Linked DNA regions of Homo sapiens. The protein of the gene in region 3 purifies or fractionates together with the protein of the main gene of each other region. This does not show direct contact. Each region holds a gene or a part of one and is shown on either strand. Other genes may lie near its edges. The genes, in order: AGPAT2, CLSTN3, PCDHB7, TMEM131L, ADGRG1, PTPRU and CLCN3.

Region 1 (4,536 bases), on a different chromosome or scaffold from region 3:
GGAGCCTCTGCAGGGCTTAGTTCAGTCCCTTCCTCTCTGAGGAAACACTTTTTTTGTGTGTGTGAGATGAAGTCTTGCTCTGTCACCCAGGCTGGAGTACAATGGCACCATCTCGGCTCAACGCAACCTCCTCCTCCCTGGTTCGGGTGATTCTCCCGCCTCAGCCTCCCGAGTAGCTGGGATTACAGGCAGCTGCCACCACGTCTGGCTGATTTTTGTATTGTTAATAGAGACGGGATTTCACCATGGTGGCCAGGCTGGTCTTGAACTCCTGACCTCAGGTGATCTGCCCGCCTTGGCCTCCCAAAGTCCTGGGATTACAGGCGTGAGCCACCCGCCCATCCAGGAACCGCTTGTAAAGTGAGTCTAGACTTTCCCACCAGCTTTCAGAAAGCTCTGAACTATGTACGGGACACCGCGGGGGAAGTGCGGTGGCCTCACGTGGCTGGTGCAGATGGCCCTTTGTCCCCTTGAGGACATCAACTTCAACTTTCTTCCACCCCCAGGGTATACCTTTCTCCCCCAGCCACACTGTGGGCTGCAGAGTTCTAGAGAGCCACAGCCTCCCGCTGGCCTGGGGCAGCCTCCGTCCGTCCATCTGTCTGGCCTGAGGACCAGGGGCCGGTGGTGGGCGGCGGGACACAGCGCCTGCTCAGCACCGCCTGCTGGGCGGGGGTTTGTACCCCGTGTCTTTCACAGCTGAGAGAAGTATCAGTGCACGATCCAACCCCTAAGCAGCTTAGATTAAAAAAAAAAAAAAAAGGAAAAGTTTTGGAGCTAGAGGGTGGTGCTGGCCACACGGCAGTGAATGCGCCGAGTGCCACGGAACCGTGTGCTGAGAAATGGGTACAATTATATTGTTTAGGTGGTGCGTGTTATACCACAATCAAAACAGAGGAGGGCTCGGCGCGCTGGCTCCTTCCTGTCATCCCAGCACTTTGGGAGGCCGAGGCGGGCGGATCATGAGGTCAGGAGTTTGAGACCAGCCTGGCCGACATGGTGAAACCCCGTCTCTACTAAAAATACAAAAATTAGCCGGGTGTGGTGGCGCACACCAGTAGTCCCAACTACTTGCTAGGCTGAGGCAGGAGAATCGCTTGCCGGGAGGTGGAAATGGCAGTGAGCTGAGATCTCGCCACTGCACTCCAGCCTAGGTGACAGCAAGACTCCGTCTCAAAAAAAATAAAAAATAAATGAAGATCTTATTTTTTAATAATTTCAGATTTACAGAGAAGTTGCAAAGATATTACGGGGGACCCCATGTGGCCCTCACCAGTTTCCTCCCTTGTTAACATCTTACATCACCAAGATGCAGTTGTTAACACTAAGAAACTAGCTGGCCGGGCGCGGTGGCTCACACCTGTAATCCCAGCACTTTGGGAGGCCGAGGTGGGAGGATCACCTGAGGTCAGGAGTTCGAGACCAGCCTGGCCAACATGGTGAAACCCCGTCTCTACTAAAAATACAAAAACTAGCCAGGCCTGGTGGCAGGCACCTGTAATCCCAGCTACTCAGGAGGCTGAGGCAGGAGAATTGCTTGAACCCGGGAGGCAGAGGTTGCAGTGAGCTGAGATCACACCACTGCACTCCAGTCTGGGTGACAGAGTGAGACCCTGTCTCAAAAATAAAAAAGTAAATAAAAGATGGAACTGGCCAATGTCACTACCAGAGGGAACCAATGTCCCTTTCAGATGTGGCCCGAGCCTCCTGCAGGCAGCTAGCTTTGGAATTGCAGGTGTGTCTTGGCTGCTGCTAGAAATCATACACATGTCCTTCACAGGAGATGAGTGTGGACCTGTCCTGTTCTTTCCCCGCGCCCCAGCTGTCTGTGAAATGGACCCTAATTTACTTTCCCTCTTTCTACTGGTGGCTATTTAAGCATTTTCAGGTTTTCCTAATTCACTGCACACTTCAGCACCACAGGCTTCTCACTCCAGCCGTCGGGCGAATTCCTGGAAGATTCTGAGAGGGGAGGGGCCAGGTTTCCTCAGGGCTCTGGCCGGGCCTGCCAACCTGCCCTCCACAGAAGTATCTTGTCTGTGCGACTCCTCACTCCTGCCAGCCGCTGGGCCTGTTCCCAACACCCTGGCTGGCACCTCCTGTTATCAGGCGTTTTAATCTGTGCCAGGGGGAAGGATGAGGACAGTCTCTTGTTTCCATTTGCGCTTCTTTGATTGGCGACACGGCCGTCTTGCTAGCACCAGACAGTTCTGTGTTTCCTGTTGGTGAACTGCCGGCTTTTGCCTCCTCGTCTTCTTGGAGCGTCACAGGGGTCCGGGAAGCTGGATTGCGCAAATGAGTGTGGAGGCAAAACAGCCCTGCAGTTCCCCTGAGTGTGCGGGTGCTACCAGCCCGGGTGTGCCTTCTGGGTGGGAGGGGACGGTGGCCGGCGCGGCCTGGAGAGGAGATATCTAGAGTTGGCTGAGGAAGGCAGATCTGAGGAGGCCCCAGGCTTCCAAGTCCAGGGACGGACGGCTGGACTCATCACCAGAATTAACCATTAGGCCCCCCTTGACTCAGTTTCCCCATCTGCAACAGGGGGTCATGAGCATTGCCCCATCAGCCTGAGGTGGTGCTGCCGCAGGCCTGGGCTCACACATGGAAGGGCAGAGTGCCAGGGCTGGGGAGGGGACAGGGGTTTGTGTCGCATGGGAACAGACGTCAGCCAGAGAAGGTGGAGAGTTCTGGAGATAGAGGGAGGAGATGGCTGCTAGACACCGAATGTGCCCAGCGCCCATGAACTGTGCACCCGGAAAAGGCCAAGGAGATACATTTTATGTTACGTGTATTTTACCACAATTTTTTTTTAAAGGCCGGGCGAGTTGGCTCAGGCCTGTAAGCCCAGCACTTTGGGAGGCCGAGGTCGGCAGGTTGTTTGAGCCTAGGAGTTCGAGACCAGCCTGGCCAGAGATGGTGAAAGCCCATCTGTACCAAAAATACAAAAACTAGCGAGGTGTGGTGGCTCACGTCTGTGGTCCCAGCTAGTCAGGAGCCTGAGGTGGGAGGAGCCCAGGAGGTGGAGGCTGGAGTGAGCCCAGATTGTGACACTGCACAATGTGACACATTGTGTCACAGAGCAAGACAGAGCAAGGGGAGCCTGGGTGACAGAGCAAGACCCTGTTAAAACAACAAAAATCCCCACCAGTATGGCTTTGAGAGAAGGCCCCGGCTTTGAATCTCTGCTCTGTGGCCTGGGGCAGTTACTCAGACTCATCTGTAGAAAGTGTGGGGCCCTTAGGACTGCTGGGGGATCAAATGGTGGGGGGCACTAGTCTGCATGGAGAGGGGAGCAGCACTGGCAGCCCCCCAGTCAGCGCTGGCACAGCCTTGCCCCGGCCATCCACCCCTGCTGGAGCTTCGGAGTGGAGCTCCGTCCTCCTGGCTCCATCCCCGCCGGCTGCCCTGTGATGGGGTGCCCTATCTGGGGTGTGCCCAGAGCTTCCTGGCAGCACAGCAGGGCAGAGGTTGGGACGCTCGGAGCTGGTCAGAGTCTTCGGGTACCCCTTGGACATCCCTGGTCCCAACCATGACGGGCTGCTTGGACAAGGCCACCTCACATTTGCAGGTGCTCCAAGGGCAGCCCCCAGTGGGCTGGGCCCCTGCCAGAGTGGGGGCTGCTGTGGCCAGGGCTCAGGTGGCCCAGACCCTGGCTCTGCTGCTGCTCCTGGTGTGACCTCAGACAAGCCCCGAGCCCCTCGCCGCCTCTTCACGGGGAAAGGGAACCGGCCTGATTCTGTAGGGTAGGGGTGAGAGAGGGTCTCGGTCTCGGCTCTTTTCTGGAAGAACCTTTCGGAGGTCGTTTCAGAGGTCTCCACTGGCGCCGACACTTTCTTCCTGATGTGGCCCTGCCTTGAGGGGCCAGTGACCTTCCCCAGGGTGTGTGGGGCCCCATTTCCTCTGCTGGGGTGCAGAGGCTGCTCTCCCCGACGTGGGTCCTTCATAGCGGACGTGAGAGCCAGTGCCAGTTCCTTTCCGGCTGGGTCCCCTGTGGGGTGGATGAGGGCTGGGTGGGCCCTGGATGTGGATTTGGAAGTGGGCGCCTTCCCATGCTCCTAGCATCCGAGTTCCAGAGGCTCTGGGTTTTCCTCTGTTGCTGGGGAGACGGAGGCAGGGCAGCCGTCCAGGTGGGTGAGCCGGGCCCGGGACTCTGTCCGCTTCAGGGGCTCCCTCCCCTGTGTCTCCCGGTCTCCTGCCCCGTGCCAGGAGGGCCCCTCCCCAGCCTCCTCCACACCCCACCCCCAGGCCTTCGCGCCCCAGCCTCGGCTGCGGGATCTGTGGGACCCGTGTTCATGGTGGCCTCCCCTGCAGCATCATCGGCTGGTTCGTGCGAAGCTTCAAGTACTTTTACGGGCTCCGCTTCGAGGTGCGGGACCCGCGCAGGCTGCAGGAGGCCCGTCCCTGTGTCATCGTCTCCAACCACCAGAGCATCCTGGACATGATGGGTAGGCCGGGCCTCGGGGGTGGCTTCTGGGGTTTGAGTGGGGCCGGCTGAGCTGGGGCTGTGTGGGGCTGGGTCCCGGGGACGAGGACACAGGG
Region 2 (3,573 bases), on a different chromosome or scaffold from region 3:
CTGGGGGCACTTGGACAGGGGGCTGGGTAGGAAAAGAGGCAGCCCGGGCTGAAGGACTCCCAGGGCAGAACACACGGTGGCCGAGAAGAGAGGAACACCTGGAGAAGCCAGAAGAGAAACAGCCCACCAGGAAGGGCAGGAGACGAAAGGGGAGGAAGGGAGCTGCTGCAAGGCAAAGGAACAAACACAGAGGGAGGCAGGTGTACAGAGAGGCAAGGGCAGAGGAGGAAAAAGACTCCCTGCCCAACACTGTCATGAACAGCCCTATTCGCAGAGGACAGAGGGCAAGGACTGGAATCTGCCCCTGTCATTCCACCTGTGCCTTCCCCAGAGACCACTCAGCCTAGGAAAGAGGTGCCAGTGCCCAGTGAGGGAGAGGAGGGGCCCCCACACGGGCTTGGCTGAGCAGGAGGAGATGCAGGCTCCAGGCCTGGGCTGGCTGCAGGAAGAGGGCACTAGCACCTGAGGCTGGGGACAAGTCCAAGGGGCACAGAGCAGCCCCTTCCCTTACCCACCTGGACTGAGCTCACTCCGTGACACCTCCCTTCTCCTGGTGGGCTTGGGGCTCCGGGACGTCTGGGGTTCCTGCTTCCCCAACATCTCCCCCTGAGGCATACCTGCCTCCCCCGTGGCTCTCCCATGCTTCTGGCCCTGCAGCCCCACTTTGATGCCCAGGCTCAGAGGGGCATGGACCTTCAAGGGCACTGAGACACAGAACGGTGCGTTCACTCTCACACGGACCTTAGAGCTGATGGCGGCAAAGCAGATGTGCATGCACAGGTACATGCTCAGGAAGACCGTGTGGGCACACAGCTGCACAAAGGTTGCCACGCCCCACACCCGAGCCAGGCCTTTGCCAGCCTGCATGCTGGCCCACACCAGCCACCTGGCCGCCTGCTCACACTGCGGGAGTAAAGGAACGCGTCTGGGGGTCTCCAGCAAGGCACGGTAGAGCCATATGTGCAGCATCACCCAGCTCCCCACCAGCTGGGCAGACCAGGCAACCCCCTGAAGGAAGACATAGACACTACAGACGTGGGCCGTGAGGGCCACAGAGCGAGCCGCCATGAGCACAGCCCTGCCTGCCTCCTGCACACACACACACAGCTCTCGAAGAAGCACAAGGAAGAAAAGCAGGAAAGCCCGCAGCCCCAGGGACAGCAGGTGGAGGCAGAGACCCCACACACGCACCTCCAGGCCCAGGGCCCTTACGGGCAGCTGGGTCACTACTCCCCACATGGGTGCACACCCCTGCCCACCATGCATACACAGCAGCTCCTCCCTGGGCGGTCCCGTTGCTGAGGGACTATTCCATGTATGTGTGCCCCAAACACACACAGAGACCAGCAGTCACACAAGCAAGCCCCTAGAAAAATACACACATCGCATTCCAGCCCCGTCCGCAAATTACCTACAGCCTGAGACTCATGTGTCAACAGACAGAGCAGAGCGTAGGGAAGCGCATGGCCCAGGAGCTCCTCACACTCACACCCACACCCTGCTGCAGCGCCCCTCTCCCCAGCAGCCAGCACACTCAGCTGCCACGCACTCCAGGGCCAACTAGGTGTGTGGAGAATGCCCTGCCTGGGCAGGCCACACACCTCCCTGAGGCCACCCTGATGGCTGTCTGCCAAGTTGGTCCCCATCCTGACCCACAGCCCACTTGAGGCCACCAGCCAATTAGAACGGACTCTGCTGGGGCACACTCCCTCGACACTGGTTCCAAGGTGAAGACAGGACTGGCTGGATCAGTATTTCTCAACTTCCTGGGAACGGGGGATAAGGGAGGAGGGGACAGAGCTGTCTCTCCTGCCCATCTGCAGGAAATAGTGTCTCTCAGGTCTCCACGTCAACAGACCAGAGCCAGGGGCAGTGCCTTCACTGGCAGATGGGCCCAGTGGCTAAGCCCAGGCTCCAGAAGGGGTGGTGACCCCACCCTCAGAGTGGAGGCCAAAGCAGGTGAACTTCCTCTAAGCACACAACGATGACGAGCTAAAGCTGGTTTGCGCCCTAATCAATGCAGTGTCCCTCCGAGCTCCTGGCCTAATGAAGGAAATGACAAGTTGATTGCCAGGACAATAAGAAATGACCACAGGAAAGACAAAATGCAGACACTCTATCTACAAGCAAACAAGTCTGGTTAATTAGTTTAAGATGAGTCAGGAGCCCGGGGAGATGGGAGGATTTTTAAATCAGCTACAGATAAAAATCAAGAATTTAAGAAGTGCGTTCAGCTTTTCTTGCTACATGAGATCTGAGCAGTTAATTCTGGCCTTGAATGACCTCCAGAGCCAACATTAAGGGGTGACTTAGCAAATGGTCCATGGGATTGCGAGGACAGTGGAAAGCCCTGTCCATGGCCCCACACGGTGCTCTCTTTGCAAAGAGCCTTGGGAGAGATTTCTTTCTGCCCCCCGCACTCCCAGGGCTTTTCATGAAATAGCGTTTGGCTCCTATCACGGCTCTCAGAACTGCTCAGGTTTCCTTTTGCTTTAGCTTTGAAGAAGCTCAGGGTCAAAATTCTGGCCCGTGGTAGCAACTGCATAGCATCTCATAGTACGCATGTTATGAGCTGACTTTATTCCCTGGCTTCATTGGATCCTTATTTCATCATTACCTGTTCCTCCTTACTTCCTCATTCATTTTCTTTTTGTCCTATTGCTTTGTAACTCTTTCTGCAAAGCTTCAGATACTTGTAGGAAACAAAAGAGGAAAATTATTCCCAAACTTTTAAAGATTACATGGGATTTTTAAAAACCACTGACACGTGGCTCCCACCCCCTAGACATTCTAGGGTATAATTTAGGTGCCGAGAGTTTTTAAAGCTCCCCAGGTGATTCTGGCAGTCATCAAAATTTGATATGAGTAGATACATAATACCCTCATCATCCGGCTTGCTCTTCTCAACCAACCTTATTCTCTCTAACCATAAACACTCTTAACCACCTATCTACCCCCGGTTCTCAAATTCCCATTCTCTCTCACACCCATCCAAAAATCCCTTTTACAGTTCAGGTCCAAATGCAAACTCTACATGTGCCACAAAATCTCCCCTGACTGTTCCAGTTTACCCTGGTTCCAGTTCACATTCATCTCTCTTTCTCTAGTGCACTTAGGAGATTTAGAGCAATGGGCCTCCGTGCCACTGGAGGAGATCGTACCTCTCACTGCTTCTGCATGTTTAGAATGGTTTGATATTGTGAAACCACAGTTCTGCAACACCACTCGAGATTTGTAGGTGAAAGGGAGGGAGCACCTTGCGGAGTCAGAAAAGGCATATGGAAAGGGTTTTATGCCGTGAATGGCCTGTCAGCTCAGGCATGCCAATCACCAGTGCCCTCAGGGAAGCTACGAACTCTGTGTCCTATTCAGGTCAAAATAAGAGAAGAAGCAAAGGAAAACTGCTGCTCTCAACTGAAATCTGAGGGAAGCTTGATCAGCCTGGACATGAGCTCAGAACAAAGGATGGGGAGACTGGGCTTCACCGAGGGGAGGTGAAAGGGTGCCGTGAACAGACACTCCTCCAGGGGCTGAGGGGTGAGAAACGCTGCCCGCCAGACCAGCCCATGCAGG
Region 3 (5,073 bases):
AATTAGGCAGAAACTTGCCAGGTGATATCTAATGACAGAAAACAGTATGGAATCGGAGCAGGGTCACTGACCCAGAGTCAGACAGATCTGGGATGGATGCTCAGTTTTGTCACTTATTAGTTAGTGGAACTTAGTGAACTTACTGAATCTCTAAGACCATCTATTTGTTCATTCCTAAAATACCATGCCTCATATGCTTCTTCTCAGATTAAAAGTGTTAAAATAGTGTATGATGCATTAAAAGCATTTTTTAAAAATGCTTAAAAAGATACTCTACAGTCTATGCTTCTGAGACTAGGGTAGGTACACTCATACAGCTTTCTAATCAACTCAGGAAGTCTCAGTAGAGATTGAAAACAATGGAAAGCAATTTAAAATATCTCAAACAAGACTTACATTTAATAGACTGTATATTAAGCATAATTGTTTGACATAAAACATTACACATATACATTTCATGCTTTGTGAAGGGTTCTTGATACTAAATCAGGATCCTATTTTATGTATAGAAATTTATTGCTTGACTTCAAGAGTACATATTTGAAATGATGTAAAGACACTCCCTTAAGGGAACCTCGCAATAAGTTCCTAATCAGAAACGTATTCACAGACGCGGATTTAGTTTACATTCTTTATCAGAAACCCAAATTATTCTGAAATGGGCGATTTTCTTCCACTTCCCTGCCTGTGCTCTGGGGTAGCAGGTTGGGGATAATTGGTTTCAGAAACTTGAACTCATTTGTCCCGGAGCCTCCAGTCAGGCACACCTCATACTGGTAGCTCTGGGATAGGGTCCCGGTGCCGCTCAAGTCCACCAGATGTCGTGGAAAGGGGCCCTCAGGCACCGAGCAGCGACCCACCGGGGCCGCCCTGCTCCTCCTGCACAGCCGCACCGCCACGAACAGGAGCACCGAGAGGAGGAAGAGCGAAGACACCGAGGCCAACGCCACCACCAGGTAGACGGTGAGCGAGTTGGCCTGGTCCGGGGCCGCCTCCGGGAGCCGCAGGTAGGGCTGGGAGAAGCCGTCCACCAGGAGCACGTGCAGCGTGGCGGTGGCCGAGCGCGGAGGCTCGCCATTGTCCTTGACCAGCACCACCAGCCTCTGCTTGGCTGCGTCGCGCTCGCTCAGCAGCCTGGCGGTACGCACCTCGCCATTGTGCGCCCACACGCCGAATAGCCCGGGCTCCGTGGCCTTGAGCAGCTGGTACGACAGCCAGGCGTTCTGGCCCGAGTCGCCGTCCACCGCCACCACCTTGGTCACCAGGTAGCCCGGCTCGGCCGCCCGGGGCAACGGCTCGGTGCAGGGCGCGGAGCTGTTCTGCAGCGGGTACAGCACGAAGGGCGAGTTGTCGTTGGCGTCCAGCACCAGCACGCGCACCAGCGCCTCGCTGCTCAGCGCGGGGGAGCCGCGGTCTGTGGCGCCCACGCGGAACTCGAACGCCTGCAGGGCCTCGTAGTCCAGGGACCTGAGGGCAAACAGGTGGCCGTTGTCCGCGTTGATGGAGACCAGGGAGGCGAGGGGCAGGTGCGGGTCCTGGGACGGCAGCAGGGAGTAGATGACCTGGGCGTTGGTGCCCGAGTCTCTGTCTGTGGCGCTGACACTGCCGATGGGCAGGGCGGGGCTGTTGTTCTCACGGACAAACAGGGTGTAGGAGGTTTGGGTGAAGGCGGGAGCGTTGTCATTGACGTCGGAGACCAGCACGGTTATGTTGTGCTCGGTTTTCAGCCTGGGTGTCCCCAAGTCGGTGACGGTGATGGTGATGTTGTACTCAGTGTTCCTCTCTCGATCCAAAGGTTTCTCTGTTACCAGAGTATAGAAGTTTTCGACAGATGGCTTCAGGATGAAGGGGACATCGTCCTGGATGGAGCACACTGTCTTTCCATTGTTCCCGGAATCTCTGTCTCTAATCCTAAAAACAGCCACGACTGTCTCGGGTGAGTTTTCTGCAATTGGGCTAGTAAGTGAAGACAGGAGCAGCTCGGGTCGATTATCGTTTATATCTGTTACATCAACCACTACAGTGCATTTTCCAGAAAGCCCGCCGCCGTCTTTGGCCTGAATAGTTAATGTGTAAGTTTGAATTGCCTCATAGTCCAATTGCGCTTTAAGATGAAGACTGCCAGATGTTGGATTGATTTGAAACGTTTTGAGAATTCTTTCAGTGGCGTAAGAAAATGCATAGGCTATTTCCCCATTACTTCCGGTATCTAAATCTCTGGCTGACACGGAGACAACCATGGAACCAACGGGGCTATTTTCGGGCACCTGCACCTTGTAGAGCGACCGCACAAAATCAGGGGCGTTGTCATTTACGTCTAGAACCAGAATGCGCACGAGGGCGGTCCCTGATCTTGGAGGAGAGCCGCCGTCTAAAGCGGTGAGGGTTAAACTGAACTCTGGTATCTCTTCCCGATCCAGCACTTGATTCAGCACCAATTCGGGATAGATATTCCCCTCCCCGCTATCATGGACATTAATATGGAAATAGGCATTGGGGCTGATGGTGTAGTTACTCAGGCTGTTGGTTCCAACATCTGAATCCTGTGCACTCTCTAGGAGAAATGCCGCCCCTGGAGTGGTACTTTCTAATATTTTCAAGGAAATCTCTCTGTCTAGAAATACTGGAGCGTGATCATTGATGTCTCTGACCCATAGTTCAGCACGGAAAATCTGAAAAGGTTTTTCCAATAACAACTGGAAAGGCAGCACACAGGGCTCTCTGGGGCCACACAGTTCCTCTCGGTCCAATTTCTCATTTAGAAGTAGATCACCAGTAAGCGAACTGAGCAGTAAAATTTGCATGTTCTGGTCTGAAACAATTCTAGTTCCCCGGGCTCTCAGTTCCCCTACCCCTAACCCTAGGTCTTTTGCCAAGTTGGTAAGAAAGGTGCCTCTCTCGGTTTCCTCCGCCACAAAATACCGAAGCGGTTCGGCGCCAGCCCAAGACATTCCCAGAAATACACAAAGAAATAAGACTTGCCTTTTCTGCACAGCACGCTCCACTCTGGCCTCCATTCTTCTTTGGATCAGTCTTTCAAAATGACTTTCACTCAGCCTCCAGCGGCTCTCACAAATGGCAGCAGCGGAATCCTTTGAAATGAGCTGAATAATAGCAATGTTTGTGGGGAAGGATCCTCATTTTACCCCAATTCCTATTACCACTGTTTCCTTTCCTATGCTTTTCTCTTCAGATTGCCTCTTTGCTCTGGAATCTGTAACATCCTTTCTTTGTGAAATTATTTTTCTCTCTCTCTTTTTAGCCAGCAGCGCCACCTTGCGTTTTGTGGATGTTATTCCCGTTATCAAGACTAGAACAAAAAGATGGCGGATTGAAGGAATTCTGCAACAAGAATGATTTGTCCCCGGTATCTTTGCTGTTTCATTCCATCTTTATCCTCAAATGGTCACAGTAATGCTAGTAAGTAATAGCTGATGTCGTTTTCCCCTGTGATAATCTGGATTCGTAGAAGAATTAATTTATAGTCTTCTTAAATCTAGGAGCATGAAACTAAACTCTGACTCCCCACCGAAATCCTAAGAAAATCTCCTATTTTAAAAATGGATAGTAAAAATATATATGAGAAAATGAAACCTCCTCCTTGAAGTCAACAAATATTGGTTGGGGACATTTTATTTATTTGTAAAGTATTTAACAATAATAATGTGAATATGGCAGAATAATTGACCCTTTTCCCAATTTCTTGTGAATTAAACAATTATTCCACTTTCCAGGTCTTAACTCTTTACCTGTGATATTTCTTGGAACACTTTATGCCTCCCCCAAACCCAACCTTCATCCTTCACCTGATTTAAGTATTACATAAGAAATTATTGTTCCTCTATAATTTCAGTGACTAGAATCTCCAATGTCCAATGAATACTCTTAAAATTAGTAGTAGCAAGTTGGTCAATCTTGCATTTGTGGAAGTGCTTCTAGCATTTCATCTTCAACTATGATGGTTGATCTCAATTTGGGGTAAATATTCCTTTTTTGAATCAATAAAGTTTTCTTTTTATTCTTTCATATTTTGAAGTGATTTTTGATAGCTGTTGAAATAATACATTTATTCTTTAGTTTCTAAATTACTGAGTTATTGATATAAATGACATTTAACCATAATGTATTATTGTTTTAGTGCACAGATAGATATGATGTGTCAACATGGTTTTAGGATTTTTCTAGTTAATGTTGTTTACCTAGTGCGTGTTTGCCTTTTATGGCCTTGGTATTAAACTATTATACTGGCATCATAGAATGTGTTAGGGAGCTTTTTATCTATTTTATACAATAGTTTTAATAATTATATTATTATATGTTTCTACATGCTTAATTCCAGCTTGTCTTTTAAACTGGTTGGGTTTGGTGACTTCACTTGCAGTAGATCAGTGACTACCATTTACATTTTACCTTTGGTTATTAATCTGTTCAGGTTTTGTATTTTTAAGTAACTTGCATTTTATTTTGAAAATCATTTTATCTAGTTTGCAAATTTCTTGGAATTGTTTTCATTGCGTTATTTACCTTTAATTGTATCCCTATTTTTATTAGTGATGTTTAGCATTTTAACTCCTTTTTATTCTTGGTGAGACTTGCAAGAGCTCTACTTTACTGATATTTTGAAATGCATTTTTTTCAAAATAATATATGACCTTGGTCCAAAATTAAATAGCACTAAGAGGCTTGTTCTGCCCTTTTCCTCCTCACTTTTCTTAGTTCCCCTTCTAAGAGGTAGCCATTTTAAAACTCTTTTAGTTATCTCTTCAGTCACTAATCTGTTTTCTGATATATTTTGATTAATTAATTTTAGAAATTATCAATTGACTGTTTATTATGTTAGATTACATTTTAGGTATTTTAGATTTTCTTTTACTTACCATATATTGGGAACATTATTGTGTATTAATTATGTTTTCTTTTTCAATTTTTTTGTGATTTTAATAATTATCTTGCCTTTTCATTTACTTGATTTTTTTTATCCCTATCACTTATTCATCCCACAGATACAATTGCCTGTCAGTGCAATTTTCCCCATAGTCATTTCCATTCCTCCTGAGACTTCAATTTTTCTTT
Region 4 (4,462 bases), on a different chromosome or scaffold from region 3:
GATTCTAACCTGGCAACCTTGGGACTTTCTAGAGGCAGTGCATGCCTGGAGGCTCTCCGTGCAGGGCAGCCCCCCAAGCTTACAAGACACTTGTCTCAGGCCTCCACACAACCACAGCAAAGAGAAATAAATTCAAAGCAAGCAAACCCTGCATTCCACTCACAAATCACGCCTACTGAATTTCTAATATAAAGACAAAACAAAATGTAAAAATAACTTTTTATTAAAAGTTAAAAACATATTCAAAGTTTACACATGCAAATAGATAATTCCACCATAATATGAACTTCTAAGATCAATGACAAGCAGATACAAACCGGTCTGGAAAACATGCATCAGCCACCTAACCTCCCCTAAGTTCCTATACTCAGGGTTAGCCTGCTCACTGGGAGGGAAACCACACACTTACCAGAATGTTCCTGCTGCTGTCATTGCCCCCAAGGACTGGCCTGACAGAGGAACAGCCCTTGCCGTAAGTGGGATGGAGAGAACAGTTCTAGGGCTCTCTGCTTCATCCCAGCAACACACCAGGACTGGAAAGAACCCCCCGCTGCACCCCCAAGCAGAGTCCACCCAAGCAAACAACTTGTTAAGCTGGGCTTTCCAGCAGTTCTCAACGGCTGAGCAACTTCATTTTTTGAAAGCTCCCCAGATGGTTGTGATGCTCAGGAGGAGGAAAACCATAGCAGCCATTTCTTGCTCAACTCCTACCTTCTTAGAAGTCTCCCTTGTTCAGGAGTTCGAGACCAGCCTGACCAACAGGGTGAAACCTCGTCTCTACTGAAAATCTCTATTAACTGGACGTGGTGGCACACGTGCGCCTGTAATCCCAGCTACTCAGGAGGCTGAGGCAGGAGAATTGCTTGAACCCAGGAGGCAGAGGTTGCAGTGAGCCAAGATCGCACCACTGCACTCTAGCCTGGGCGACAGAGCGAGACTCTGTCTCAAAAAAAAAAAAAAAAAAAAAAAAAAGACGTCTCCCGTGTTCAGATTTAAAACATTCGGCATGCCTGACACACTTCTTGACTTTTGAAAGTTCTGACATATGGATGCTTTGTTTTTACCACTGATTTATGAAGAGTTAAAAAAAACAGAGCACCCAGATTTCATTAAAAAATTTATTTTCATATAAAAGTGCCAAAATATCCACCAATGTCATAATCTATCTCAATAACCAGTTTACACTAGTAATCAAAACACAAGCCTCTTTATTCACATTGTTTAAAAATCCAATTATTTTCACACATTCCCACAGTAACTCGAGTCTCTAGACAGTGGGAAATTTGCATTCCTATTCGCTGTGGTAGTCCATATGTCCAGGTTCATATAGGCGCGAAACGGGTTGAACCCCGGGTAGTATTCCTTGCACACGACCGCTTGGTTTTCCATGTGGGTCGAATGTTCCGTGGTGGGGTTGATGGGGCAGCAATTTTCATACACATCGCTTTGCGGGGCCCAGATGGAACCAAAAAGTCCAGACATTGGAGACAAGCTTCGGGTGCTTGTGAGGTAGGGCTGAAGTATAAATGAGGAAGGAAAAATAAGTTAAAAGAAAAAAAAAAGCCTTAGAAAGGTGAATACACATCAGCGAATACTACAATGCTATCAAGTTACTTGGAAGTTATTAGACTACTCTCAATTTAAATCTGGGTTGCTTTAACTCCATTTTTTCTCAAAGGGAGGATTGTGAAATCCTCATCTAATGGGATGAACTTATTTGCAACCCGGGGAAGAACCCACAGGCCAAATACCCTTTATCTGGAAAAAAACAAAAACAAGTGTCAAGCGGATGTGAAAGGAGAAGCCATCGGGCTTCTGAGCAGGGAGGGTGTGCTCACAGGCAGGGAGCTCTGGGACCCTGACCACCCACTGACCTTCCTGGGACTTTCATCTCGTATCGGTGAAGTAAAGATCAGTGAGTCCACATAAAGACAGCTGTGTCACACAGAGGGCTGGCCCATGTTCAATTTTATCTACAAAGGACCATTGCTTGGTGTGTTTGGGGATGTTTTTCATTTGGGGTGGCCAGAATGTCAATGTCTGCAAGACCCCACCCATCTAATTATTACATGTCAGTTTCCTTCAGAGGGTGGCCAGCCCTGGCTTCTGTGATCTAAAAGAAGCAAGCCAGGCTTTGGCTGGTCCAAACCCAACGCTAAAGCTAGCTGAGACCAGGATTAAGGAAGCAGTGGAAACAATTCAGAGCTGCCCAGGGGTTCACGGCACAGGATGGGCAACACTGACCGGAGAGCTGATGAAACTGGCATGTCCCCAGGCAGCAGGCATGTTGGGTGGGGTGTTCCAGGTAGACTGAGAGTTGTGATCAATAAAGTCTGTCTGAACATCTGCAGGACAGGGGAAGCCATTGGCATAGTTCATGTTTTCTACAAAGAATGGGAGAATATCATCATAGGTAAACATTTTCATTGAGAACTGAATTCTCACTCTCAGGCAAAAAAGCTTTCAAGGTCTCACTATACTGACAAGTTACAGACATAAATACTTGGTCCGTGTGGACCAGGAGAGTCGTTGCAACATCATTCTCAAGATTAAAACTTTTTATCAGACACACAACCTGGGAAGCCCTCAATGTGGAAGGTCTTCCTCCTGGCTTGTTTTTCTCTATTTGATCACTTGATGGGAATCTTTCTATTACACAAAATACATTAAAATACTACTAGATATCTAAATAGTGTCAAGGTTCTTGCCAGTCTTTAAAATGTTTTTATTACCTGTCATGCCAACCTCAGCGACCTACACATATATCATCTGGGCTGATACAGCAATCCAAAACCAAGGACTCCTTAGATACCATTAAGAACATAATGAACACAGACCCTCACAATCATAACATTCCCAAAGCACCCCCTTGTGGTTAGCATGGAGCAATGCATGTATCAAAATCTAGATAAGAATGATACATCCCTTCCCTGAAAGGGCAGCTCTAGTATAAGAAACCATGATCCAACAGTAGTGCACAATAGAGCATTTTCCAGTTGACCAGGGATATCCCATAGCTCTCATTTTTTTATTATTACAGATGCTTGAGCCCAAGCATCTGCAATTTTCCACAATTTCCCCTCCAAGCTTCTTTCCTTCCTTCTGCAGCACCACCCAAGGGCAGAGAAGTTAAGGACATAATAGGAAGCAGGCCAATGTTTCTATTTCACATGGGACTTGACTGCCTAAAAAGAAGAGCGAGCAGCTAAAGCCCCGGCTTCCCAATGGATACCCAACAATGTTACATCTACATGGATCCAAATGACCTAGTTCTACCTAACTGGAAGGACTAAATGGATTAGGGTTATTTTTGAAGCCCCCAGACACCCAAAATTGAGGGCTTTTTGAGGGTCATATAAAATTATATATGGCATCAGTGCACAACTGGATCCACATGAAGCCATTCGGCAGTCTACTGCAAGCTCATTCTCAAAGTCTGCTCGCTGTTAAAAGGATTCTTCTTAGTCCACACACTTCCTGCTTTGACCTTCTAAGAATAAAATAATGGCGTTGGGATTGTCTGAAGAGCCCTTACCTTCTGGAAAGGCATTGTAATCGTTCAATTCCAATGGACAGTATGCGCTGGAAAACTGGCCTTCGCATGTTGCACTCCAATCAATGAAACTGCCACAAAAAACAAGTGGTCTAATCAGAAACAGGATGTCAAGACATCAAGTAAAGAAAATGGAAAATGATTTTACTGCCTAGCATCCTAATCACTGTGAATTCCCCAATTTTGGAAAATAAAAGATGTACTTTCTCAAGTCACAGAATCAAAGGCTTACTAAATGCTGATCACTAGTGACATGCCATCTGCAGGATGGACGGCTGGACTAGGAGCACACTTGTTTTTAACTATGCTTGTTAAGTCTAACTAGAGACAGAATAGAGAGCCGTGGCTTTATCAGCACTGTGAAAGAACAGCTGGAATACCTTTAAGTGTCTTTGTGCACATCTGAAGGACTTAAACATGTTCCATTAAAAACGTCCACTCAGAGCAAGACCAGCATTCATCTTAGACAAGCATAACTATAAAGACTATACTTCATTATACTTTGATCCCTATTGCAACCTAGATTCTTATTATAGAAATGAGATAGGAAATACTGTTGTAATAAGCTGAACCAAGAAAACCATCAAATGGATTCTGTGATTAAATATCTAACATTTTCTTAAGACTCCCTAATAGAATGACATATTAATGTCAAATAGCAAATTTGAGAAACTGCCATTGTGTAACTATTTTTCAATATTCAAATTATTTGATCTTTTAAAACTTTAAATTTGGGCCAGGTGTATTGGCTCATGCCTATAATACCAACACTTCGGGAGGTCAAGGCAGGAGGATAGCTTGAGACCAAGAGTTCAAGAGCAGCCTAGGCAACAAAGCAAGATCCTGTCTCTACAAAAAAAAAAAAAAAAAAATTAAAAATTAGACCAGCATGGTGGCACACACCTGTAG
Region 5 (4,255 bases), on a different chromosome or scaffold from region 3:
GCCTCCAGCTGGGTTGGGACAGATGTGGGGACAGTACCCTAGGCAGCATGGCGGCGCACTTCTGAGTCCCGTGGGAGCTGAGTGAGAGCCGAGTAGTCCCCAAGGCCAATTCAAAAGCCCAGCCCGGGAGTCCGTCCACCATGGCAACGGCCCATCTCTCCATGGTCGTTGGGCTTTCCAAAGTCTGCGGCTGACTGGCCTGGGGCTGGGCCGGGCTCGGGGGCCACAGGCAGTGTGCGACGAGGCCGAATCTCTGCTTCATCACATGGGCAGGTGGGCTGGAGGCCTAGATGCGGCTGGACGAGGTGCTGCCCGAGCTGATGGGGAGCCTGGCGCTGTCTGAGTTGCTCTTCAGAGGGGAGGGGCCACCCCGGGCCTGCAGCCGCATGGACCAGTACCAGATGAAGATGAGGAAGCCTGCGGGCAGTGAGGGCACGGGGTCAGCAGGTGGGGGAGCCCCACCCCATCCCTCCTCCTCCCTCCCCAGCCATTGTGACTCGGGTCTGCCCCACCTCTCCATAGTGTTTGCCAAGCACGTGCTGTCGGGCACCCATGAGACCCAGCGAGCACCTCCTATGAGCCGGGCACTGTGCTGCGTCCCCGTGTGGCCTCTCACTGTCACAAACTTCCTAGGCCCATCCTATTCATTACTATTCTCTTTTGTAAACAAGGAAACTGAGGCCCAGGAGGCTCAGGTAAAGGGACGTGGCTGAGCCAGGGCTCAAACTGTGGTGAACAGGCTCTGAAGTCCACCCACTTAAGCACTGTGAGATTTTGCACCCCTCAAATTAATAGCACTATGATGTATCCACAGCTTAGTAAATGTCTGTGTGAATGTATGGGCCTCACTTACAATCCTGAGTCCCCTCATCTCACAGGCAGGAATGAAGGCTTGAATGTTAAATAACCGAAATGTGGTAACATCTCCCCACCACCAACTCCCAGCTCCCATTCTAGGGTGACCCTGTATGGGAGGCTGGCCTTGAACCCCATGAGAGCCCCTGGGCCTGGCCATACAACCCCCTTCCATTCTGCACGGCCAGGAACAGAGGGGTGTGCATGCCTGTGTGTGCACCTCAATGTACACACACAGGTACATGCACAGAAAGGGACCCTGTTGGCATCAAGCCAGAGCCATCATGACCCTGCCCTGGGATCCCACCTCTCCGCCCCGACCCGCCGCCATCTGGCCACGCTCTCCCTCACTGTCCTTCCTACACACAACCGGTTCCAACCTCAGGATCTTTGTTCTTGCCTCTCCCTCTGCCTGGAGCTTCCTTCCCCTAGACCAGGGCTCCTGATCCTATCATGTGCACGTGACCCCTTGGGCATTTGTGAAAATGCAGATTCTGATGTGGCAGGGCCCGGGTGGCCCAGAGGCTGCGTTTCCAAAAAGCTCCTAACAACGCTGCTGCTGCTGGTCTGTGGACCGCGCCTGGAGTAGGGAGGCCCCCCCATCTCTCCATGGGGGGATCCTTCTCTTGTCTTCACACGTCTCATATCCAGAGAGGCCTCCCTGGCCACCCTTCTTAGGGTGTCCCCCACCCCAGCCGAGGCCCTGTGCAGCACGTGCTCACGACGATGTCCCTACTATCTGGGACCACCTTTGATGGCTATATGCTTGCCTGCTCATGCGCAGTCTTCCCCAGTAGAGCTGAGTTCCAAAAGAACAAGGCCCACACCCAACCAGCTCAGCCATAAGCCCTGTGGCTTAACACAGGGCCTGCACATAGTAGGTGCTCAATCAAGACTTGTTGACTGTGGCCTGGATGTCCCCATTTTATGAATGGGATGACTGAGGCCCAGAGAAGGGAAGTCTTCAGGTTCCCTGGGTGATCTCTTCCCTGCCCTTGCTCCATGTGTAGACACCCTGCCTGGGCCAAGGGACGGGTCTTCTCCTTACCTTGGAAGGAGGTGATGATGCTGAAAAGGTAGAGGACGACAAGCTGGAAGGTGCCAGAAGCAAAGGAGAAGAAGATCAAGGCCCAGGGCAGGCCAAGGACCAGGCTGAGGCCCAGCAGTGTCAGCACATGTGACCACTTTTGGGTGTGGGGGCGCAGCCGCAGGATCTGCACCACCATGGTGGCTAGCATGGCCATGTTGAACAGAAACACCAGGCTGAAGAGGCCCAGGTTGGTGATGTAGCTGACCAGGGAGTCCCGGATCCAGCACCTGCGGGCAAAGGCAGGAGGGCTCAGCGTGTGGCCAGCACGGGCAGCATTTCCTGGGCTGTGGTTGTCATGTTTGTTTTCAGGATTATCCACTGTTTACAGCAAGTGCGCTTGTTTTCTATTTACAGTGTTGATGTAATTTTAAAAATACATTTGAGTTAACAAGTCAGATTGTTTAAAGGAAAATGTTAAGTAAGTAATAATATAGATAGTACAAAAGTGAGGCAGAAATCACTGGGTCACAACATAAAGAGCTGAAAATTTCAAAACCACTGAGCCAATGGGAAGGATTCCTTCCCAGGCTGGAGCTCAGGAACCCTGGCTTCCGGTTTGGGTTCAGGGGATCCACAGGCAGGGCCGCTGCCAGCCTGGGTGAATCAGGTGAGTGGAGAAGGACTGGACTTCAACCCCACTCATCCTCTGCCTCCGAACAGCACACCAGCCCTCAGTGTGGCCAAGAGCGGATCTCTTCCCTCCCTGAGCCTCTGTCTTCCCATCTGCATGGGGAGACAGAGAGGTGCTGCTGAGGAATGTGGTGAGGCTCATCTGCTCCAACCCATACCCCCATTCATGCATGAGGAAACCGAGGCTCAGAGAAGGGCCGGGGCCTGTGCAAGGTCACCTGGTGAGTGAGTGGTAGATCCAGGCCTTTTCTCACCCTCCATGACTCTTAGACCAGTGCTTCAGCCACTGCCAGGCCAATTCCTCGAGGAGACTGGAACCCAGGTGTCCCCTGGCCAGCATGACCTGGGCCCGGGCTGCACTCTGGCCTCTGTGCCCAGAGACCCACCTTCTTGCCCCCATTGCACACAGCCACTCACATGGAAGGGTAGATGACGCCCTCTGGAGTCCTATGCACAGCCAAGATGATGGGGCCATAGTTGTCCACATCCACCAGGGCCACCAGCGTCACCAGAAAGATGGGGAAGCCTGAGGGTGGCAATGCATGTTGCTCTACTTCCCGCTCTCTGAGGCCTGCCCATTCCCTGCTGGCCTCAGGGAGTCTGGAGGGCAAGGGCCCCTCTGAAGTTTGGGCTCCTGAAGCCCACCCAGCCCCATCTGGTGGGGAAGTTCCCCCAAGTTTGGACCCTCCCCCTCCCCATTCCAGTATGGGTTTCCTATAAGGGGATGCCATCTCCTCCAACCTTAGCCCTGCCCTTCGTCACCCTGGGGGCCCCTGGGAGAAAGGCCTGTGGGTCTCTGCTGCAGGGCTGGATGTCACAGGGGAGATGGGAGGGGCAGACAGTTTAGGAGGGACGGCAAGAGTTCTGCCATCAGGGGACGTCTGCACTGGGCCTTGACCTCGCCCGTTCGGTGGAGATTAGAAGCTCCCTAGAGGGGGCTGCCCACCTCCAAACACAAAGTCCTGACACAGAGACACCTCCAAAGGAATTTCATGCAAATGGGGGAATGGACAAAGAAGGGGCCCAATGACAAACCCGCGAAGAGCAGCAAGCTGGAGTCAGGGGCATGCGGAGGTTGAGGGGTCTGTGCAATGTCCAAACAGACTTGTGGCATCATGAGCCCCTGGGCTGTAGGTCTGACATAAGAGGGCTGGCCACAGGTGAATTGAACAGTCATTGGCCAAGAACAAAATGCCAAGCCACAGGGAATCTGTTACCCAAGGTCCAGGGGGATCCTGAGGCAGGGCCACTGCCAGCCCGAGTGAATTAAATGACTGGAGCGGGACTGGATTTCAGCCCCTCTGATCTCTGAACTGGGTGCCTTTGAGCAGTGCACAACCTGCACATTCACACACGGTGGCCCTGCTCGTAAATCCCCTTTGCAATGGAGTGAGTGATGTGGAGAATTTGGAAGTGTTTCTTGGGGACAGGGCTCACTGCTTCTTCCTAAAGGGGACCTTGATTCAGCCAAGGTGAAGGACACCTGAGGATGAGTGAAGGAGGCCAGGAGGGAAGTCAGAGAGATAGGTGGAGAGGCAGAACCAGGTGCCTGGGTTTTGCCAGAGCCAAGTGGGAGAGGCAGGTCTGAGGCACCCCCCGCCCAACCACTTACCCCAGCCCATGGCGCTCAGCTTGAGTAGGTAGCCAGGGACATAGGTGCCAAAGACCTCCACCACGAGT
Region 6 (4,536 bases), on a different chromosome or scaffold from region 3:
GCACCATGGAAGTGCCACATCCATCATGGGCATGACCCAGAGCTGCACAAGGCACACCGCGCCACTGCAGTGCATTTAGTGGTACACTGGGCTGGCACCCAGTGCTACGTGATAGGTGTATGGAGGAATGCCAAGATGGTAAGTTTAAGCCTTACTAGTTCAAGCTTCATGCATTCTCAGGGGAAGGGTGTGTGCCCTGCATAGACATGCAGCACAGGCACACAGAACAACAGAGAGATAAGGGGATGGGAAAGGGGCAGTGAGTGAAGAAGAAACTGCAGGGTGCGGCAACCCAGCCTAGCATATAAGCCCAATAAATACAGTCCTGAGGAACAGAGTATGTGCAGACTCGAGGCATGGGTAGGAAGTGGCACAAAATGGAGTACAATTAAGATGCTGTGTGGAGCTGGGCGCAGTAGCTCATGCCCGTAATCCCAGCACTTTGAGAGGCCGAGGCAGGTGGATCATTTGAGGTCAGAGGTTTGAGACCAGCCTGGCCAACATGGTGAAACCTCGTCTCCAGTAAAAATACAAAAATTAGCTGGGTTTGGTGGCACATGCCTGTAATCCCAGCTACTCAGGAGGCGGAGGCAGGAGAATCACTTGAACCCAGGGGGCGGAGGTGGCAGTGAGCCCAGACCGCTCCATTGCACTCCAGCCTGGCCAACAGAGTGAGATTCCATCTTAAAAAAAAAAAAATAGATGCTGTGTGGAACCAGTGGATTCAACGCAAGGGCTCTGGGTCCCGCAATCCGGTAGAGTGCACACAACCCAACAGTGAACAGGTTCGTTGCAGGGTAGAGGCCCTGGGCAGTAATCCTGTGCAGTGCACGAATGCAATGTCAGATACTGTGCAGTGGTGCTGCCTTTGCAAACCTAAGCCAGTCCTGAAGCCCAAGAAAGTGGTCCCAAGCTGTACTATAGATATAGACTCCCTGAGTCATGTGCAACGTGGGGCAGTGAGGACACTCAATGCAAAGATGTTGTTCACGTAGGGCTGACAACAAAAACCTGGAAAAGGACGCCAGCCTACAGATACCATGGTGGTAGGAGCGTGAAAGGCCAGGACACCATAGGGGCAGCGTTTCAGCAGCAGTGGTGCAGTGCAAGGGCTGGGCCATGAGGCACATATCCAGTGCAGCAAAGCAGTGCACATGCACAGAAGTGCTATATGGGGCAAAGTGCACTGTTGGTACAATGCAACTGTGGAATGCAGAGGGGCCATGCCCAGAAACTCAGGAAAAGTTCACAGTCCTGATGCAATACTGACGTCCATGCAATAGTGCAGTGCAGTACAGAGATGCTGTGTGATGCCAAGATGCAATGTTGTGGTAGCATGCCATCTGTTGGCACGGTGCAGTGCTGCAATGCGAGGAGCTATGCCCAAACCCCAAAAGAGTCCATGTGCCCAATGCAATGTAGACTGCCTGGTGAGGCAATGGGGTGCAGAATATAAATGCTCTATGACACAAACATGCAATGTGGCCACAGAAAACCATGTGTTGATCTCAGACAGTGGTGCAGTGTGAGCAGCTCCGCCCAGAAACCCAGGAGAATTCACCTTCCCAATGCAACACTGACATCCAGCAGAGTGACACAGTATACAAGAGAGCAGCAAAGACACACACATGGCAGGACCATGGCAGGATCATGGCAGGATGGAGGCACGGTCCAATGGGACAATGCAGAGGCAGAGCATGCAGAAACTCAGGAGAACGCACACCCTCAATGCAATGCAGCAATCCCAGTGAAGTAGAGGGCTGAGACACAGGGCTGTGCAAGGAGGCTGGACCCAGGAATCCCAGACAGTGCACATCCAGAGCAGTCCAGAGCCTGGCACGCTGCAACAGTGTTGCTGGGAGGGTCATGATGCCTCCCTGTGATGCACTGGAGGAGAGGGGAGCTCAGATCCCTGGAAAACTCTCTACCTACAGCTCTGCCCGGCCACGCTGGCTCACCCCACAAGTTGGGGGCCGAAATCTCATCTGGCTTGTCTCCCTCCCTCCAACATCTTCCACCCCAGTGACTCTCCAAGGGCAAAGGCTGAAGCCACTGCCACCCACAGGATAGGCCATCTAGAATCGAGCACATTGTCCAGGTATTATAACTGAGCAGAATCCCAGCATGCTGGCAGGAAAACAATGAATTCAAATTCTGCTGGTAAAGCTCTCAGACAATTAAAGTACAGCCCCTGGCCCCCAGCCCAGGGCAGGACAGAGGAGAGATAGAGAGAAAGACCTATTATTGGATAAGGCCCTGGGACAGGGTGAGCAGGAAGTAGGATGAACAAGAGGTTAGGATGTCAGAGAAGAGCCAGACTCAATCAACCTGGCTAGGCACTCCCCAACCACCACCCCCGTCCCCACCACTATTACTCCCTCCCAGGCCTGGACTTCATCAGAAACCAAGAACAAACTTTTCTGGGCACACAGGATGACCGCACGCATGCAAATACACACATCATAACAGTGATCACTTACACAGTGCTTACTATGTGCAGGACCTGTTCTAACCTACATAATCATAACCATAAAACATATCCTCATGACAAACGCATGCAGTGTGTCCTATTATTATCCCCATTCCACAAATGAGAACTCTAAGGGCCCAGAGAGGTCAGTAACTTACCAAAGTATCACACAGCTAGAAGTGGTGGGCTTAGGATTAGAACCCAGATGGTCTGGGCCCTGAACCCATGCTCTTAACCACCACACGCTAGACAAACACATATTGACAGGCATGCCCAGCCACAAGTCCACATGCACGCTCCTGTAAACACACATACATACACATTCTAAGCAATGTATTTCCCACTCTCAGCTGAGACTCACCTGTCCTATCCACTAGGTTTCTGATAGCTCCCAGTTGTCACCTCTTATCTCCACCTCTTATCTTATCACCCACATCTCCTTGTTCTATCATCCACCTGTCCCCCAACCCTCAGTTGTTCCCCCAATACCGCCTGTCCCTTCACTGTCAGCTGTCCCATCCCCCAGGTATATCTTTCCCACCAGCTATCTTCTATCCGCCAGTGGTCCCCCAGGCCTCAGCTGTCACCCACCACAGTGGACATCTGACAGTGTGCTGCGGTTTTCCGTCTCCTTTTTCCACTAGTCTGGGAGCCCCCGGGGGCTGAGCTGTCACCCCACCCCTAGCTTTAATCTTGCCCTGTCAAATATCCTCAGCATCTCCCCTTCCTAACAGCCCCATCTCAATCTTTCTCCCCAGCTTCTGCCCTCAAACTCCCAAGCCTCAGCGGCCCTCCAAGCCCCCTTTCTCCTTGTCCCTTCTGAGTCATCACAAGGTCTTGTGGTTTGCATCTTGGGAATCTGCCCAAGACCTCCTGCGTCATCTGGAAGCAGCATCTTCTGAGCTGTCCCCCTCAGGGGTCCTCCCACAGTCATTCTGCAGGAAATGGCAGCCCCCAACCCAGAGCCAGAGGAGGAGGCATAGCCAGCCCACCCATGACTGTGCTGCAGAACCCCAGCTCCTGCATTCACCCCTCCAAGCCTTCCCTGTGCACCCAGAGGCATCGAGATGCAGCCACTTAGTGGGCATCTCCCACGTATAGGCCCTGGGGACCACAGATGACAAAGACACAGCTCAGCCCCTGGGGGCTCCCAGCCTAGTGGAAAAAGGAGATGGAAAACCGCAGCACATTGTCAGACGTCCACTATGGGAGAAATTTCACCAACTGCACCGGGAGAGGGCTGGGAAGGCTTCGCTGCATCAGTGACAATGGAGCTGAACTGTGAAGGCTGAACAAGTAGGTAGATCCCCCACCCCCACCACGAGGTGAGAAGTAGGGAGGGGCACAGTGTGTGCAAAGGTAGAGAGGTGTGAACTGGCATGGCAGGCTCCTGGATCAGCAATTTGCCTGGTGATTTGGAGCAGACAGCGGATAGGCAGGAGTGGGATCAGGGAAGAAAGGCATCATGTGAAGCTGCTTCAGAAAGAAAGGGCTGGTCATGCAGGGCCTCATGTGCTATGCTAGGGTTTGGGTTTTGTCCCCTGAGTTCTGGGGAGCCTTCAGCTTGGGACAAAGGAGTGGCAGCATCCTATGTCTGCCTTAGAAGCTTATTCCAGCCACAGGGTGGTGGAAGCATTAGAAACCAAAAGCCTGGGCCGGGCCCGGGGGCTCATGCCTCTAATCCCAGTACTTTGGGAGGCCGAGTCAGGCAGGTCATGAGGTCAGGAGATGGAGACCATCCTGGCTAACACAGTGAAACCCCGTCTTTATTAAAAATACAAAAAATTAGCCGAGCGTGGTGGCACGCGCCTGTAGTCCCAGCTACTTGGGAGGCTGAGGCTGAAGAATTGCTTGAACCCAGGAGGCAGAGGTTGCAGTGAGCCAAGATGGTGCCCCTGCACTCCAGCCTGGGTGACAGAGTGAGACTCCATCTCAAAAAAAAAAAAAGAAACCGAGAGCGTGATGGCAGGCAGAGTAGAGGCCAAGAAGGCTACCAGGCTACTGCAATAGTCCAGGCAAGATCTAATAAGGCTGCAGAGAAGGGGCCTGGATTGAACAAAACCTTT
Region 7 (4,536 bases), on a different chromosome or scaffold from region 3:
ATTAAAATTTAGGTAAACTTAATTTCTCAAACATCTAATAAATTACATTTTTTGAACTTAGAATAAGTAAAAGTCTTACCAAAAAATATAAAGGTACAACAGAAAGTAATGGAATTGAATTGAGGAGGCAAATGCTCTAGCTTCATCTTAGCCACTAACTTGCTACGCTACAGGATGGTTTTGAGTTTGTTTTGAACACACACAAATATATACCCACATAGTCGTAAGGGCAGTAATGTAAGTAGGTAAGACCACAGACTTTGAAGTCAAAGAAAAATGAATTTTAACCTACGTTCCACCACTTACTAGGTATGTAGTCTCGGGCAAGTTAGTTAGCTGTTTTCAGCCCTAGTTTACTAATCACTAAATGAGGATAACAGGGCCATATTACTAAATTACTGTGAAATTAAGTATTAAAATCCAAGTAAAGTATCTGCCACAGTACCAGATACACAGAAAGTAATCAATAATGCTAGCTATTTTTGTTATAAAGTACTGGAATCACAATTATTCAGAGATGAAACTACGACAATCTGAAGTATTCCACTTTTGGGATATCTACGTCCAATGCAAGGACAATATTTTAATGCGAACATTAAAATGTACTAGAATTATTTCAATTGAAGATTAAACAGTTTGATAAAATATTCTACTTTTTTGGTTACAGTACATTAAAAAACTCAACAAGATGAAAAGGTTCTGCCAGTATTTAATGAGATGTTTTTCAAAAAATCATATCTTAAAAACTCAAAGATCTCTGTACCATCTAGGGCTGTAGATTTAGATTTGGAAAATAGGAAGGGACTGGGCTCCCAAAGTCTAGAGCTAATATAAAGGATTCAGGAAAATGCCCAGAGCAATATGGAAACATCAGAGGAAATCCATAATATATATAAGGTTTCAAGGTCTTGTAGAAGATCTCAGGCTGGCCTAAAGAAATGGTAAAGGAAATTGCCTTAAACAATCAAATGAAAAGGATTTCCTGTAATCTCTTTAATGTGAATTTCTGATTTAAACTTCAAGAGCTTCTAAAGGCCCTCAGAACTTCCCCATAGCACTGGATAGCATTTTTCATATCACACACCACTTACACTGGCACCAGACACTGCCTCCAGGAGGAAAACATAGCTATTAAGATTTCCCAACCTCTTAATGTTGAAAGTAAGAGTGAAAAACAAAGCTAAGCTTAGAAAACACTTCAGAAGAGGAAAGATGTAAGGTAAAGTGATAACAGGAAGATCTTCGTGAAATGCAGCTGAAACCCAATGGACACCAGCTGTCTATCTAAAGCTTCTCTAAAATGTAAGACGAACTGAGCAGCACTGGGAATGGATTCTAGAAAGATGTTATAGATTATTCAGGAAAAACAGAAGCACAAATCTCAAAATTTTTTATCTGAATACAGAATTTATTATTTTTACACTAAGAAATTCTTTACTTAAATAAATACTATATAATATATATTTTTCAGTCAAATTAACTACAAAAGACACTTACCTCCCTTTTTTTAGCTTCGTTTGTGCTATACTTTGGAAAGAGGTAGGAAAAGATATTTCCGCAGCAACAGGCAACATGTACCAGGGGACCTTCTTTTCCTAAACTCAAACCTGATGCCACAGCCAGGACTAATGTGATGGTTTTAATCATTAAAGTCCATTTTCCCAAGTAACCTCTGATGATGAATCCACTTAAAATAGTTTTAATCTACAAGGCAAAGATTAAGGCAGCTTAATGTCCTTTAAGAAACATGAGAATGTAACGAATCCAAGTTATTTTCTTGTTTTATGCACAAAAACAACCTTGCAAATTTTAGCAGTCTACAGAAAAATTTACAGTTAATTTTTCGAAAACTTTGCCTATTATGCTACATATAATAAATTGATATTATAATCTAATTCTCTACCCAAGAAAGGAGAGAGGGCAACACTATCTCAGGAACAAAATCAAAATATCAGGCCATGTTAAAATGAATACAGACCTTAATTATAAGGATTATAATTACATAACCAAAAAAAGGGCAAATTTGAATATTTCTGTTGTAAAAATAAGCATAATATTTTAAATATATTTTGGACATTATGTTAGAAATAAGAATATTATGTTTTCTCTGAGTACTGTAATTATGTGCAATAGTTTTTTATGTATCAAGAATGAGTAACAACTGTTATATACTGCATGATATTGCTTTTTATGAAAGATATTCTTAATACAAACTTAAAGATCAATACAATTCCATTTTAAAAAGAAATGTATTAGGAAAAAGTTGGTAACTTATTTAACTACAGAAAAATAAAAGAGAAGAGATAAGTTCAAATCAAGTTCAATCAATCCTATGTATAACTCTACTTTATTGTGATGAAAAATAAAACCCAAAAGTTTGTACTGTTGACCCACTGTGATTAACTACTTTCTCAAAGCATAAAATGGCCAAATTCAAGAATAATTAACTTATCTAATCAAAAGGTAATTATAAAAAGTGAATGAATCAAAATCAGGGTCATAGCCACGTGTGGTGGCTCACACCTGTAATCCCAGCACTTTGGGAGGCTGAGGCGGGTGATCACTTGAGGTTAGGAGTTTGAGACCAGCCTGGCCAACATGGTGAAACCCCATCTCTACTAAAAAAAAAAAACAAACAAAAAAATGCAAAAATTAGCAGGGCATGGTGACAGGTGCCTGCAATCGCAACTCCTCAGGAGGCTGAGACACAAGAATTGCTTGAGCCTGGGACGCAGAGGTTGCAGTGAGCTGAGATTGCGCCACTGCACTCCAGTCTGGGCGACAGCACAAGACTCAGTCTCAAAAAAAAAAAATTCAGGGTCATAACAGCAAAGTAACAACTAACCCGTCAAAGAACATTAGGTCACAAGATACTTCTTCCAGGCTCTTGATGTTTAACTAAATAGTCTGAAAATTTGCCTAGTCATGTGTTAAATTAGTGGTGAGAGAAAAAAAAAATCAGCCTTCACAGTAAATGACCAAATGACTATGGGGAACAATATTTTTCAATGATGTCTACCATCAGCTTATACTTAAAAAAATTTTTTTTTCATATTATGAACAAACTATCCCCTCCCTCCAGAAAAGCCAACTTTTATTATCACTAAGGTCAAAAAGATAAGCATCATAATAATGTTTAATGACACTAAATATTACTTGGCTTACCTCTGGAATTCCAGAGCCACAGGCATATGGAGCAAATACCTTTACCAGGGAAACTGCAAGAAAGGCAAAACTCAAGGCCCAGAAGATGTACATTATGTAGTTCATGATATAAGAACCAGGACCCTAAAAAGAAAATAGTTCGAGAGTATGAATTTAATTTACATTGCACCTCTAATGCAAATGCTTGTCATAAGAAACTTCAGTAAACGGCCAGGCATGGTGGCTCACGCCTGTAATCCCAGCACTGGGGAGGTTGAGGCGGGTGGATCACCTGAGGTCAGGAGTTCGAGACTAGCTTGGCCAATGTGGTGAAACCCCGTTGCTATTAAAAATACAAAAATTAGCTGGGCATGGTGGCGCACGCCTGTAATACCAGCTACTCGGGAGGCTGAGGTAGAAGAATCGCTTAAACCCCAGAAGCGGAGGTTGCAGGGAGCCGAGATCGTGCCACTGCGCTCCAGCCTGGGCAACAGAGTGAGACTCCATCCCACCGGCCAAAAAAAAAAAAAAAAAAAGAAAGAAAAGAAACTTCAGTAAAATGTGTAAAAGTCTCCTGGTTTATTTCCACAATAATAAAAACTTTATATGAACAAAATATTTAAGTAGAGTCCAAAAATTAATGCCTACATATACCAAGGAACCCTGAGCACATTTAATCTTTTTCCTAATCCCTAAAGTCTTGTTACCAACACATCTCAGCTATACTTCAATCTCTGCCTACAAACCACTTTTTGGAAACAGTGGAAACAAATTGCATCACCACTCAGATTTCATTCTGCTGCAACTTTCCAGATCATTAAACTCAATTCAATTAAGCCAGGTGAGAAACAGCATACTACTCATCTTACCGCAAATGTATACCTTTTAGCTCTAAAGTTCAGCTAAAACAAAATTTAAAAAATATATCCATGTCATCATGTAAAAAATATACATGTAACATCCTAAGTTCTAAAATGTTCTTTGTAGATCATAGTAAATCAATCATTTAAATGCCGTAATGCCACAAATAAAAATGTCTGATTATCTTCAATGTATCTCTACGTAGGTTGATTTTACTAAATTATTTGATAATACTTTCATAATTCAAACTTCCCAATCTTAGTAATATATTAGTTTTAATAACTTGACTTCTTAGTAACTTTACACAGATCTTACTGCAATAACTATCACTTCTTTTCTACTACAGCTCAAATATATTTGCACCACAATCCAGAGGATTTGTTATATGACTATGCAGTTAACTAATAAAAAAGCTACTTGAAACAATATTGCACTTAATTCTTTCTTGCTGCAATGTGTTGAGGGTGGATCCATTTGATGTGTATGTAATCATCTAATATGTGATTAGTTCTATAATTAAATGAATTGGAA

What was found.
Region 1: the proteins of PCDHB7 (region 3) and AGPAT2 purify together in Homo sapiens (affinity purification with mass spectrometry; one large-scale study listed by BioGRID and IntAct). This does not show direct contact.
Region 2: the proteins of PCDHB7 (region 3) and CLSTN3 purify together in Homo sapiens (affinity purification with mass spectrometry; one large-scale study listed by BioGRID and IntAct). This does not show direct contact.
Region 4: the proteins of PCDHB7 (region 3) and TMEM131L purify together in Homo sapiens (affinity purification with mass spectrometry; one large-scale study listed by BioGRID and IntAct). This does not show direct contact.
Region 5: the proteins of PCDHB7 (region 3) and ADGRG1 purify together in Homo sapiens (affinity purification with mass spectrometry; one large-scale study listed by BioGRID and IntAct). This does not show direct contact.
Region 6: the proteins of PCDHB7 (region 3) and PTPRU purify together in Homo sapiens (affinity purification with mass spectrometry; one large-scale study listed by BioGRID and IntAct). This does not show direct contact.
Region 7: the proteins of PCDHB7 (region 3) and CLCN3 purify together in Homo sapiens (affinity purification with mass spectrometry; one large-scale study listed by BioGRID and IntAct). This does not show direct contact.

Annotation. Positions count from the first base shown.
Region 1 is NC_000009.12:136,677,329-136,681,864, reverse strand, and holds part of AGPAT2 (1-acyl-sn-glycerol-3-phosphate acyltransferase beta), read left to right. Parts: intron 1-4,308; coding exon 4,309-4,442; intron 4,443-4,536. UniProt on the Homo sapiens protein: Converts 1-acyl-sn-glycerol-3-phosphate (lysophosphatidic acid or LPA) into 1,2-diacyl-sn-glycerol-3-phosphate (phosphatidic acid or PA) by incorporating an acyl moiety at the sn-2 position of the glycerol backbone.
Region 2 is NC_000012.12:7,153,872-7,157,444, reverse strand, and holds part of CLSTN3 (calsyntenin-3 precursor), read right to left. Parts: intron 1-3,573. UniProt on the Homo sapiens protein: Postsynaptic adhesion molecule that binds to presynaptic neurexins to mediate both excitatory and inhibitory synapse formation.
Region 3 is NC_000005.10:141,170,780-141,175,852, reverse strand, and holds the start of PCDHB7 (protocadherin beta-7 precursor), read right to left. Parts: upstream 3,210-5,073; 5' UTR 3,018-3,209; coding exon 636-3,017; 3' UTR 1-635. UniProt on the Homo sapiens protein: Potential calcium-dependent cell-adhesion protein. May be involved in the establishment and maintenance of specific neuronal connections in the brain.
Region 4 is NC_000004.12:153,633,354-153,637,815, reverse strand, and holds the end of TMEM131L (transmembrane protein 131-like isoform 1 precursor), read right to left. Parts: intron 3,625-4,462; coding exon 3,536-3,624; intron 2,385-3,535; coding exon 2,245-2,384; intron 1,516-2,244; coding exon 1,240-1,515; 3' UTR 1,105-1,239; downstream 1-1,104.
Region 5 is NC_000016.10:57,659,614-57,663,868, reverse strand, and holds part of ADGRG1 (adhesion G-protein coupled receptor G1 isoform b precursor), read right to left. Parts: coding exon 4,188-4,255; intron 3,102-4,187; coding exon 2,993-3,101; intron 2,173-2,992; coding exon 1,904-2,172; intron 418-1,903; coding exon 287-417; 3' UTR 1-286. UniProt on the Homo sapiens protein: Adhesion G-protein coupled receptor (aGPCR) for steroid hormone 17alpha-hydroxypregnenolone (17-OH), which is involved in cell adhesion and cell-cell interactions.
Region 6 is NC_000001.11:29,242,784-29,247,319, reverse strand, and holds part of PTPRU (receptor-type tyrosine-protein phosphatase U isoform 1 precursor), read right to left. Parts: intron 1-4,536.
Region 7 is NC_000004.12:169,689,282-169,693,817, reverse strand, and holds part of CLCN3 (H(+)/Cl(-) exchange transporter 3), read right to left. Parts: intron 3,289-4,536; coding exon 3,166-3,288; intron 1,705-3,165; coding exon 1,498-1,704; intron 1-1,497.